Homo sapiens: one gene and its partners. The protein of the gene in region 2 purifies or fractionates together with the protein of the main gene of each other region. This does not show direct contact. Each region holds a gene or a part of one and is shown on either strand. Other genes may lie near its edges. The genes, in order: BRD8, KDM5A and ZNF131.

What was found.
Region 1: the proteins of KDM5A (region 2) and BRD8 purify together in Homo sapiens (affinity purification with mass spectrometry, with the first as the bait; one large-scale study listed by BioGRID). This does not show direct contact.
Region 3: the proteins of KDM5A (region 2) and ZNF131 purify together in Homo sapiens (affinity purification with western blotting; one study listed by BioGRID). This does not show direct contact.

What each region holds. Positions count from the first base shown.
Region 1 is NC_000005.10:138,165,070-138,168,721, forward strand, and holds part of BRD8 (bromodomain-containing protein 8), read right to left. Parts: intron 3,620-3,652; coding exon of another isoform or gene 3,401-3,619; intron 3,010-3,400; coding exon 2,865-3,009; intron 1,659-2,864; coding exon 1,449-1,658; intron 1,040-1,448; coding exon 759-1,039; intron 98-758; coding exon 1-97. UniProt on the Homo sapiens protein: May act as a coactivator during transcriptional activation by hormone-activated nuclear receptors (NR). Isoform 2 stimulates transcriptional activation by AR/DHTR, ESR1/NR3A1, RXRA/NR2B1 and THRB/ERBA2.
Region 2 is NC_000012.12:284,817-288,468, reverse strand, and holds part of KDM5A (lysine-specific demethylase 5A), read left to right. Parts: intron 1-2,806; coding exon 2,807-3,013; 3' UTR 3,014-3,652. UniProt on the Homo sapiens protein: Histone demethylase that specifically demethylates 'Lys-4' of histone H3, thereby playing a central role in histone code. Does not demethylate histone H3 'Lys-9', H3 'Lys-27', H3 'Lys-36', H3 'Lys-79' or H4 'Lys-20'.
Region 3 is NC_000005.10:43,141,414-43,145,065, reverse strand, and holds part of ZNF131 (zinc finger protein 131), read right to left. Parts: intron 1-3,652. UniProt on the Homo sapiens protein: Plays a role during development and organogenesis as well as in the function of the adult central nervous system. May be involved in transcriptional regulation as a repressor of ESR1/ER-alpha signaling.

The DNA of each region.
Region 1 (3,652 bases), on a different chromosome or scaffold from region 2:
AGGGGCCAGGCAGGGACTGAGGATCATCATTTTCTTCACAAAATGACAGTGCTGCTTCCACTGCTGCCACATCCAGCACTTCAGGATGATCATCTACCTGTCCCACAAAACACAAGACTATTGAGGTCACAGAAAGAAGCCCAAGTCCTTCAATTTTTGTTAGCACCAAATGTGATGGCTTGAATCTGCAGCTTTTCGCTCCATTTTTTCCATGTAGTGGAGGCAAACAATGAAGAGGCACCTGTCCTGTGCAAACCAGTAACATGGGTAGACCTGAGGAGATGACTAGTATGTTAGCACCAAAGGGCTACAAAGATGGAGATGGGCAGAAGTAGGAGAGTTGTTTAAGTAATTCTTACTGTAAGAAGCAAAGCAGCCGAGTATGGTGGCTCATGCCTGTAATCTCAGCACTTTGGGAGGCCGAGGTGGGTGGATCACTTGAGGCCAGGAGTTTGAGACCAGCCTGGCCAACATGGTAAAACTCATCTCTACTAAAAATACAAAAAATTAGTGAGGCGTGGTGGCATGTGCCTGTAGTCCCAGCTACTCAGGAGGCTGAGGCACAAGAATTACTTGAGGCTGGGAGGCAGAGGTAACAGTAAGCCAAGATCGTGCCACTGCACTTCAGCCTGGATGAAAGAGCAAGACTCTGTCTCCAAAAAAAAAAAAAAAAAAGCAGCAGCAGCACCAAAGTGAGGCTGAAAAGAGAAGCCTATGTAGGACCCATGAGATTCTCTGGGGCTTCGCTGAATAGTTACCTTGTCCTCAATGATGGCAATGATGTCTCCAACAGTCTCAAAATCCAGCTCTTCACCTGTGTAAGACACAGCAATATCCATCTTCTCAGCCAGATCTAATTCTTCCTTCCCATCTATGCTGGGAGCCTTTGATCCAACAGGAGCCTCTGCTACCCCTGATCGAAAACACTCTTCTTTGATAGAATTGATGATCATGGATATTTCACTGCTGTCCATGGAAACAGTCACAGTATGTGGATCCCCCACAGCCTCCATGGGAACACAGTTGTCGGGTTGACTCACTGAGTAACAGAAAGAGAAAAGCATCTCAGAAGCTTATTGGGTACAAAGCGACCACCTTGAGATCACATAAGCGCTACAGACAGATGTCAAATATCCAAACACTTAAGGTCAGAAAGAGTCATCAACATGTGCCTATGTTTTCTTCTCCCCAGTTTTATCTAGAAAGGTGAGAACATATTTTCAAGCCTGCTCATATCTGTATACTTAGCCTCTTCCTGCAATACATAAATGCCCACCCACCTCTTCTCACATCTATTTCTAAGGATATTTATTTCTAAGGATAAAGATGGCACATGTCTATGTAGAACAGAGAAGAAGCATCTGAATCGGAGCTGATGCTCTTGGTCATTTTTCTCTAACTAAAGCTCAAAATGAAATTTTAGATCTAGTGGCTGCTCAGGGACGCACCTGGAGCTACACTTTCAGTAGTGGAGACAGCCGGAGCAGAGGATGGTGCTGGCAGCGCAGGCATCATGACAATGGTAGCTTGGGACACAGACTCTACAGGGGGTGGCACAAGTTTAACTGGAGGCTCACTGGCAACAGTAGTGAAGGAAGCAAGAGGTGTGGTGAACTGTGTAGGACCAGCTTCTAAAAGCCGGGAAAGAGTGGGAGCACCTAACATATAAAGAGGTACACAAAATGAAGTAAGAAGAAAGCACATAAATAAGAAGCAATAGCTACTTGAAGACTCAACTAAGAAAATTCTTATGGTCTCAAAGGATGAGAGCAACTCCTGCATTGAATAAGTTCATCATCTATATCCTTACTCTAACCTTACTTAAGATCTTCCTCCAAGTTAGGAATGAACCAAAGCACTAGAACACACAACATATATAAAAAATGGGTGGTAAGGCTAGGTGCAGTGGCTCACGCCTGTAATGCTAGCACTTTGGGAGGCCGAGGCAGGTGGGTCACTTGAGGTCAAGAGTTTGAGACCAGCCTGGGCAACATAGCGAAACCCTGCCTCTACTAAAAATACAAAAAAAAAAAAAAAAAAAAAAAAAAAATTAGCTAGGCGTGGTGGTGGGTGCTGTAATCCCAGCTATTCAGGAGGCTGAGGCAGGAGAACTGCTTGAACGCAGGAGGTGGAGATTGCAGTGAGCCAAGATTGTGCCACCACACTCCAGCTTGGGCGACAGAGCAAGGCTCTGTCTCAAAAAAAACAACAACAACAACAACAAAGGGTGGTAATTTTTCCTCAGAGGAAAATTAATCACCAAGAAACGAAAAACTGGTATGAATAAATCTGTCGCTTCTGCTGAAGTTCAGCATATTGTAAACCACCCAAGTTCAACACCATTCAAATACCAATAAGGTTTGTATGGTATTCTATGGAGCTTTTTTTATTTCCCTGCTTTATACTTTCTACCTCATTAAATTCTCATCACATCCTTGTGAAGTATATATGTTACAATAAAAAAGGAAACTGAGGCTCAAAAGCTAAGTTACCTATCCAAGGTCACAAAACCAATGTGTGGCAGGCCTGAGATTCAAGCCCAATTCTCTGGTTCCAAATCTTATTCCACTATTCTATAATCTTAGGTATCTCTAGCACCTTGATTTTGCAAGCCCTAAGAAAGCAGTTCAATATTACTCTCAATATCCATGCTGTGGTCAATCAGGGCTATCACTATCTTGAAGATAGATGGCTTTATAATATGGAGACTACATTGTTTACCAGGTAAAGTAGCTCCAAAAAAAAGTTAGAAAAAGTTGGGCTTTAAATCTAGCACTGACAACTGCTTAGTAACAGTGAAACTGAGGTCAGTCAATGTCAAGTTCAACACCTTTGAGGTTGATAAAGGAAAAGTGGTAACTTACCTGATGCAGCAGGGGAGGCTGCAACAGTATTGGGTGTTTGCTGTATCTCCCCACCATGTATCATGGGAAGGACCCCGCCTACCTCCAGGAGGACACCTGTACTGTTCAGGTGGCCAGAAGCCACAGCCATTTCACTCTCATTGACCTACCAGGGAAGAATAGAGGTGAAGGCTACACTCAAGCTTTCCTTCACTACCATTTCCCAACAAAGCTCCAGCAGTTGATCAAACTTCATGAAAACTAATAGCTAATATCCACAGAGAATAATTTAAGACCCAAGGGAAACTCTAAACTATAATGTTCAAAACTTATTTGACAAGAGTTCTCTGGAGAAGAGAACCAAAATAATTGTGATTCAGATACCTCAGGACCCATGGGTACTATCAACTTACTGTATTTTTAAAAAATTAACATTTAATTAGGAGATCTTTTCCTCTTTTGAACTTTTATTCCCCATGTCACATTTTAGGTCCCAGGCACTCCCTTCCAAGTACTAAATCACCACAGCTCTCAAACACCCACAGAAGTCTCCATACCAGTCTGGGGCTAGTAGGCAGGAGGCTGCCCTTCTTCAAGAGCTCTGACAGCAGAGGGGAGGGGGGTGGAGTTGCTTTCTGTCCAAGCATCTTTTTCTGGGGTGAATCATCTGTTACTGGGGTCATGGGGGCTTCTAAGGGTGCAGAGCCTGGAGGAAGGGTGTCAGGAATCCCAGGAAACGAGGTGACTGGGGTACTCGGCAAAGTCCCGGGGGTTACCTAAGAGACAACAGAGAACCTTTATCTGACTTC
Region 2 (3,652 bases):
ATATTTCTTTTTGAAACAGACATTTCCCCCAGATCTAAACATAGTAACCTATTTGTACTGTAATGTAAAATCTCCTATCATTTAATATTTGAACAGTTCATAGCTGTGAAGTTTAGTAATTATTTTTGTGATTCACTAAATACATCTCCTAGAAATAATGAAAGGGGGGGAAATGACAATTTATACAGTTATCCAAATTCTGTGTTCTTGAGTTTTCAGGATACTACATAGTCTGTTGCCCCTGTGTCAAAATCATCTGTGGATTCAGTTGACATCCCAAACTTTAGTTTGCTTTATGTTGCTGTGGGCCTTTCACACAAAAGTAGAACTCAGAGTTGATTGTTAGTAGATGAACATGATAAAAAAGATATTGGTAAAGAGAAGGACTATTTTTTGCTTGTTCTATTATCAGGCTAAATTGTTATATAACCTGTAGTCTAGGTTAGAATTTGTGTACCAGTATCTCAAGGAAGGTTATATACTCTTTTGAAATGGTAGAAGATCTGGGCTTAGGAAGGGACCTTTAGTCAAAATCACAAAAGGGAAAGTATTGTCTTATTTGTAAGAGAATTTTGGGAAATTGTAAGCCAGTGAGTATAGTGCAAACACTAGATTTAAAAAGACATGGGACACTTTTCTTTGTAGCAAATACTGATACATTAATAACATTCTTATCCAATGGATTAGCATGAATGGGGACTAGACTGGATTAAGAAAGAGGGTTGGAGGTGTAAGGGTGAAGGTAACTGTTGGTTCACAGGTACCATTATAAAAAGCATGGTATCTCAAACCTGGGCAGCACAGAGAACCACAGTTTATCTATCCAGTTCCCTTTACCAGTCCCAAACAGCCAAAACACTCACTCTGAGTGCACGTACTCTACAGCTAGCATTTTGTGTTTTTACTGCTTGCAGTACTTTAATTTTTACATTTTGCACAGATGCCATTATTTCCCCCTTTTTTTTTTTTTTGGTCTCTGATTAGTTTGCTACAATAGGAACATTTTGGTGAGTTTTTTTATTGCACAGACTTCAGAAGCTAAACAATCAATTACAGAACAAAAATCAGTTTAGGAAGGTATTGTTAAGTTGCTCTGAATTTACAGGAAGTGATATCACAGAGGGCCAGCAATGATCGGATTTAGAATATATGAGAATCACTTGGGAGCTGATTAAAAATGTAAGCTTCTGGCTTGTACTCCCCAGATATTCTGAGTTCATAGGGTGATGGGTCCCAGCTACATTTTAAACAAACACAATAGATGATTCTGATGCCAGTGGTCTACACACTTTGAAAAGCAGTGCTGCCGACAGTTGTATCAAGGTGCAGAACGTTTTGTGTAGTGTAGGGTAATGAGTAGAGCCATGAGACCATGACTGGAAAGTGCCTCCAGTATCCTGGGCAGTGAATTAGGTGTTTTGCCATACATTATTTCATTGGATCCTCTCGGTAATCTTGTAATTAATGTCATCTCCATTTTCAGATGAGGAAATTGAGTCACTCAGGTTAAATGACTTGCCTGAAATGATACACACTGGAACTCAGAGCTTCTGAGTTGAGTAATCTTGATGTTAACACAATATTGTCTCTTAAGATCTAGAACTTTAGCATAGGAACAAAACAAGTAGAATATCATTTTGACAAATTATTTTTCCCACCCCTTATTACAAGCCTAAAACTACTGACGTGACTACTGTGGTTTTGACAGTTTTTTATAGGACATGGAAACTAATTTTGAAAACTACTCAGTTGCTATGAATGAAACTCATTTACCTAGCCAAAACCTCCTTCATCTGTTCTTTCTCTTAAGTTGTATAGAGGTACTTCTTGGATCCCTTTCTATTCCTTACTTTGATATCTGGTAAAGCTCATGGTTTTAAGTGGCTTCTTAACGTTACCAATGAAATGACCAACCTTGGTATTGAGGTGAGGAAGAGTAGCTCTTTTCATCTTAAATGTTCTTGTCTGCCATGACATTAGCTGTAAAAACTACCACAATCAGCCTTCAAATATAAAAGCCAAAAGTCACTTTATTGTTAACTCTTAAGTCCAAGGCTTAAAGTCACCAAACTACAATCCCTTCCTAGCCTCCTGTAATCACAGTATTGTCAGAAGGGTCAAAGTTTGACACCTGCCACTGACCTATCAGTTTTTCAGATTTTAATTTTAAACCCCAGAGTGATCTATTGACCTGTGTCTTTGACTGTTATAATTGGTTAATTTGTAAGATTTGACATCTGATATTTGCTAACTTTTTATAGGGAGTTGTATTTGTAACGGAAGAAGAGAAGAATAAAAAATATTAGTTTTAAAAGTGGCCTATGTGACTGCTTTTCTAAAAAGGTATTTAATGCTCTTAGTACTTTGGCTTATCTCTTTGAAATAAAGCTAATACACAGGATTGCCTTCACATTGTTGTACTCTTCCTTTCTTGATTGATAATTGCATTGTCTTAGAGCCTAGAAATTGTTAATATTAGCTAAAACTACTTGGCTGCTCTATTAGAAGTTCCCTTTTTGTCAAATTTTTCTCAAACATGTTTCTGCCTCACAAGGAGCCCCAGGTATTCATGAGGTAATGGAGTACCTAAGAGGCCTAATTTTGTGGACACACTATGGTGAAATATAATTTTGGGGTATTAACTTCTCAGCTTCTTTCTTTAAAAAATAACCCCATAAGAAGTCATTGCCTATCTAGACATCCCAGTTGTTTGCTATTGTTTAAGCCAAGAAAGCTCTTTGGTTTGCTTTTATTCTAGGCTTAATGTTTATGTAACCTAAACATTCCCCAATCTTGTTTCCTACAGGTAGACTGGGTACAATGTGATGGTGGCTGTGATGAGTGGTTTCATCAAGTTTGTGTGGGTGTATCTCCAGAAATGGCTGAAAATGAAGATTACATCTGTATAAACTGTGCAAAGAAGCAGGGGCCAGTTAGCCCAGGTCCAGCACCACCTCCTTCCTTCATAATGAGCTACAAACTACCAATGGAGGATCTTAAAGAGACCAGTTAGCAGATGCTTGGTTAGTTTGGGACATGGGGGGACATGGACCACATTGAGACCTTAGTCATCAAGTAGAGTGGTTTATATCCACTTGGAATGTTGCTTCCAAAGATGAATGGCCTTCAGAGAAAGTCCCCTTAGTGCTGGCTTCCTCTTTGCATGGACTCTGTGGGTTACATTCTCTATCAACATATCTATGCAGAGGGTGTCTTCTTTGGTACAACAGCCAATATTTCATGTCTCCTTTGAGTGTGGTTTACTGCATTAAGGCCAGATGCTTAATTGAGCTCTAGGGTGGCTGGTTAGTATTAATACATTGGTGTGCTAACAGGGCATATAGGATGTGGCTTTTGTCCAGCTGATAGTAGTTAGAGGCTTACAACTTAGGAGCAGCACCAACTGAAGGTGCTAATTGCTTGGATCTCCTTCATTGGGATAGTTGGAGAGGGATTGGAGTACCACTTTCCTTCCACTGTTACCTGGTACTTAATGCCCTAAAGATACAACTAGGAGTAACAGGGCCAAAGTTATTTCTGTTAGACGTCAAGGAATGGTATCACAGTCTATTGACCTCAGCGATTTGTGCTTGTTTGTGCTAGAAGAACATCCCAAATAGGAGAACCTCTCACAAGCTGGGGCAGGTCACCT
Region 3 (3,652 bases), on a different chromosome or scaffold from region 2:
TGCCTCAGAGAGGTTGGAGACTATTAGAAAAATGTGGGAACACTAATATGATTATTGTTGTAATGGAAAATGTAAAACATAAAAATACAGAATAATAGAAGTGCCTAAGTCAATCTGCTTGGCTCAGTAAGGAAAAGCTTCAGAGAACAGGTTGTTGGCTCTCACCTGAGACCAGAAAGATGAGTAAAATTTTGCCATGAACAAGCAGACAGATGGCATTCCAAGAAATGAAAAGAACATATGCATAATCATGTTATTATGTGGCAGATATTGTTTTAAGAGCTTTACGTGTACCACTTCCTTAAAACATAAATCTAAGACAGGATAAAATATTTGGAGATTTGATCTGACCCACAGCTCACTTTTCAAATAGCCTTAAACACAAGACATTTGTCAAAAAACAATCAATGGCAACTGTTTATCATTGCAACTACTGTGGTGGCATTACAAGTTTGGGCTATCAAGAAGCTGAACAAAAACTGAAAGGAAAAACTGGAGAATGAGATGTTCATAGGGGGCTTTAAAAAGCTCTGACAGACTGGACGTGATGGCTCATGCCTGTCATCCCAGTACTTTGGGAGGTCAAGGCAGGTGGATCACCTGAGGTCAGGAGTTCAAGACCAGCTTGGCCAACATGGTGAAACTCCGACTCTACCAAAAGTAAAAAAAATTAGTTGGGCGTGGTGGTGAGCGCCTATAATCCCAGCTACTCAGGAGGCTGAGGCAGGAGAATCACTTGAACCTGGCAGGCGGAGGTTGCGGTGAGCCAGGATCGTGCCAACACAAAGCTCTGTCTCCAAAAAAAAAAAAAAAAAAAAAAAAAAAAAAGAAAGAAAGAAAAAAAGGCCAGGCGCCGTGGCTCACGCCTGTAATCCCAGCACTTTGGGAGGCCGAGACAAGTGGATCACGAGGTCAGGAGATCGAGACCATCCTGGCTAACACAGTGAAATCTCGTCCCTACTAAAAATACAAAATATTAGCTGGGCGTGGTGGCGAGTGCCTGTAGTCCCAGCTACTCGGGAGGCTGAGGCAGGAGAATAGCGTGAACCTGGGAGGTGGAGCTTGCAGTGAGCCAAGATCGCACCACTGCATTCCAGTCTTGGGGACAGAGCGAGACTCCGTCTCAAGGAAAAAAAAAAAAAAAAAAAAAAAAAAAAAAAAAAAAAAGCTCTGACAATATTCCAGAGAACCTAGAGGGCCATACACATGCACAGAGCTGTATACATGTCCAGGAAAGACCTTAGCAACTCTCATCTCTATCTGACCTTGAGGTTCTGTTAACACAGGAAGTAAAGGCTAAAGCAGTTGTAAACTGCTTGATGGGACACTGATGGTGTACCCTATAAAGAGCTCCCCAACAAAAATGTGGAGACTTACTGGTTTAAGACTTTTAAGAAAATTTCTGTCCAATGATCAGTTTGTTCAGTAAACTACCTATGCAGACTTCAGTGGCCATACACACAAAATGTAGACTGTACAGAATTACAGGAAAGGGATTACAGAAGTCCAGGAAAGTCACTAAACCAGTAACAACAATAAGAAACGATGTCTGGCTCATCTAAACTAGTTCCAGTGGGATAGGAAATTAAGAAACTTCAAATACAGCGTGTAGTTGAAGATGATAAACTTGCAACAGTGGAGAAGCAGATCACTGCTTTTGAGGACTATGTGCAGTCCATGGATGTGGCTGCTTTCAACAAGATCTAAAATCCATCCTGGATCACTGCACTTAAATAAAAGCTTGAGGCCGGGCGCAGTGACTCGTGCTTGTAATCCCAGCACTTTGGGAGGCAGAGGCGGGCAGATCACAAGGTAAAGAGATGAGACCATCCTGGCCAACATGGTGAAAACCCCATCTCTACTAAAAATACAAAAATTAGCTGGGCGTGGTGGCGTGTGCCTGTAGTCCCAGCTACTCGGGAGATTGAGGCAAAGGAATCGCTTGAACCCGGGAAGCAGAGGTTGCAGTGAGCCGAGATCACGCCACTGCACTCCATCCTGGTAACAGTGAGACTCTGTCTTCAAAAAAAAAAAAAAAAGCTTGAAAGATTAAAAAAAGAAACCATGTCTGGCCAAGTATGGTGGCTTATGCCTGCAATCCCGGCACTTTGAGAGGCTGAGGTGGCCACGTCTCTTGAGCCCAGGAGTTCGAGACTAGTAGCCTGGGCAACATGGTGAAATCCTGTCTCTACAAAGAAATACAAAAATTAGCCAGGCATGGTGGCAAGCATCTGTGGTCCCAGCTACTTGGGAGGCTAAGGTGGGAGGATCTCTTGAGGCCGGGAAGTTGAAGCTGCAGTGAGCTGAGATTGTGCCACTGCACTCCAGCCTGGGTGACAAAGCAAGACCCTGTCTCAAAAAACCAAACCAAACCCAAACAAATCATGTCTGAGAGACAGAATGGGGGTGGGGAGGTAGGGGGTGGGATCTAAATAAAACTTATTTAAAAATATCCAATTTTTGGCCGGGTGCCATGGCTCACGCCTATAATCCCAGCACTTTGGGAGGTCGAGGCAGGTGGATCACGAGGTCAGGAGGTCAAGACCAGCCTGGCCAAGACGGTGAAACACCCTCTCTATTAAAAATACAAAAAAATTAGCCGGGTGTGGTGGCGGAAGCCTGTAATCACAGCTACTCGGGAGGCTGAGGCAGAGAATTGCTTGAACCCGGGGGAGGCGGTGGTTGCAGTGAGCCGAGATCTCACCAGTGTACTCTCCAGTCTGGGCGATGGAGTCTTGCTCTGTTGCCCAGGCTGGAGTGCAGTGGCATGATCTCAGCTCACTGCAACCACCGCCTCCCGGGTTCAAGCAATTCTCTGCCTCAGCCTCCCGAGTAGCTGGGATTACAGGCGCCCGCCACAACGCCTGGCTAATTTTTTTTGTATTTTTAGTAGAGATGGGGTTTCACCGTCTTGGCCAGGCTGGTCTTGAACTCCTGACCTAGTGATCCACCCGCCTCGGCCTTCCAAAGTGCTGGGATTACAGGTGTGAGCCACCGTGCCCAGGCCAAAAATCTAATTTTTAACCAAAAAAAATGATGAGACATACAAAGAAACAGTAAAATAAGGCTCATGCATGGGGGAAAAAGTCAACAGAAACCATCTCTGTAGAAGCTTAAACACTGCATTATTATAAACAGCCAACATATAATACTACTGTCTTCCTCTTTTCAAAGGGAACTCTTCAGAACATATTACATGCCTATCTGGTTCAAGAAACAATTCAACATGTTACTGTGTTTATACTGAAAAGCAATGATTGTTTTAGGTACTATTGGAATTCCAGTTTTTTTTTTTTTTGAGACAGGGTCTCATTCTCACCCAGGCTGGAGTGCAGTGGTGCAATCTCGGCTCACTGCAACCTCTGAGTCTCCCATGCTCAAGCGATCGTACCACCTCAGTCTCCTGAGTACCTGGGACTACAGTTGCACGCCACAGTGCCAGCTAATTTTTGTATTTTTCATAGAGTTGGCGTTTCACCATGGTGCCCAGGCTGGTCTCAAACTCCTGAGGTCCAAGTAATCCACCCACCTTGGCCTCCCAAAGTGCTGGGATTACAAGTATCAGCCACTGCGCCAGGCTTGGGATCCCAGTCTTGAATCTTCTCCAAAGTGACATACCACTCACTATCATGAGCAGCAAAAGGGCCACAGA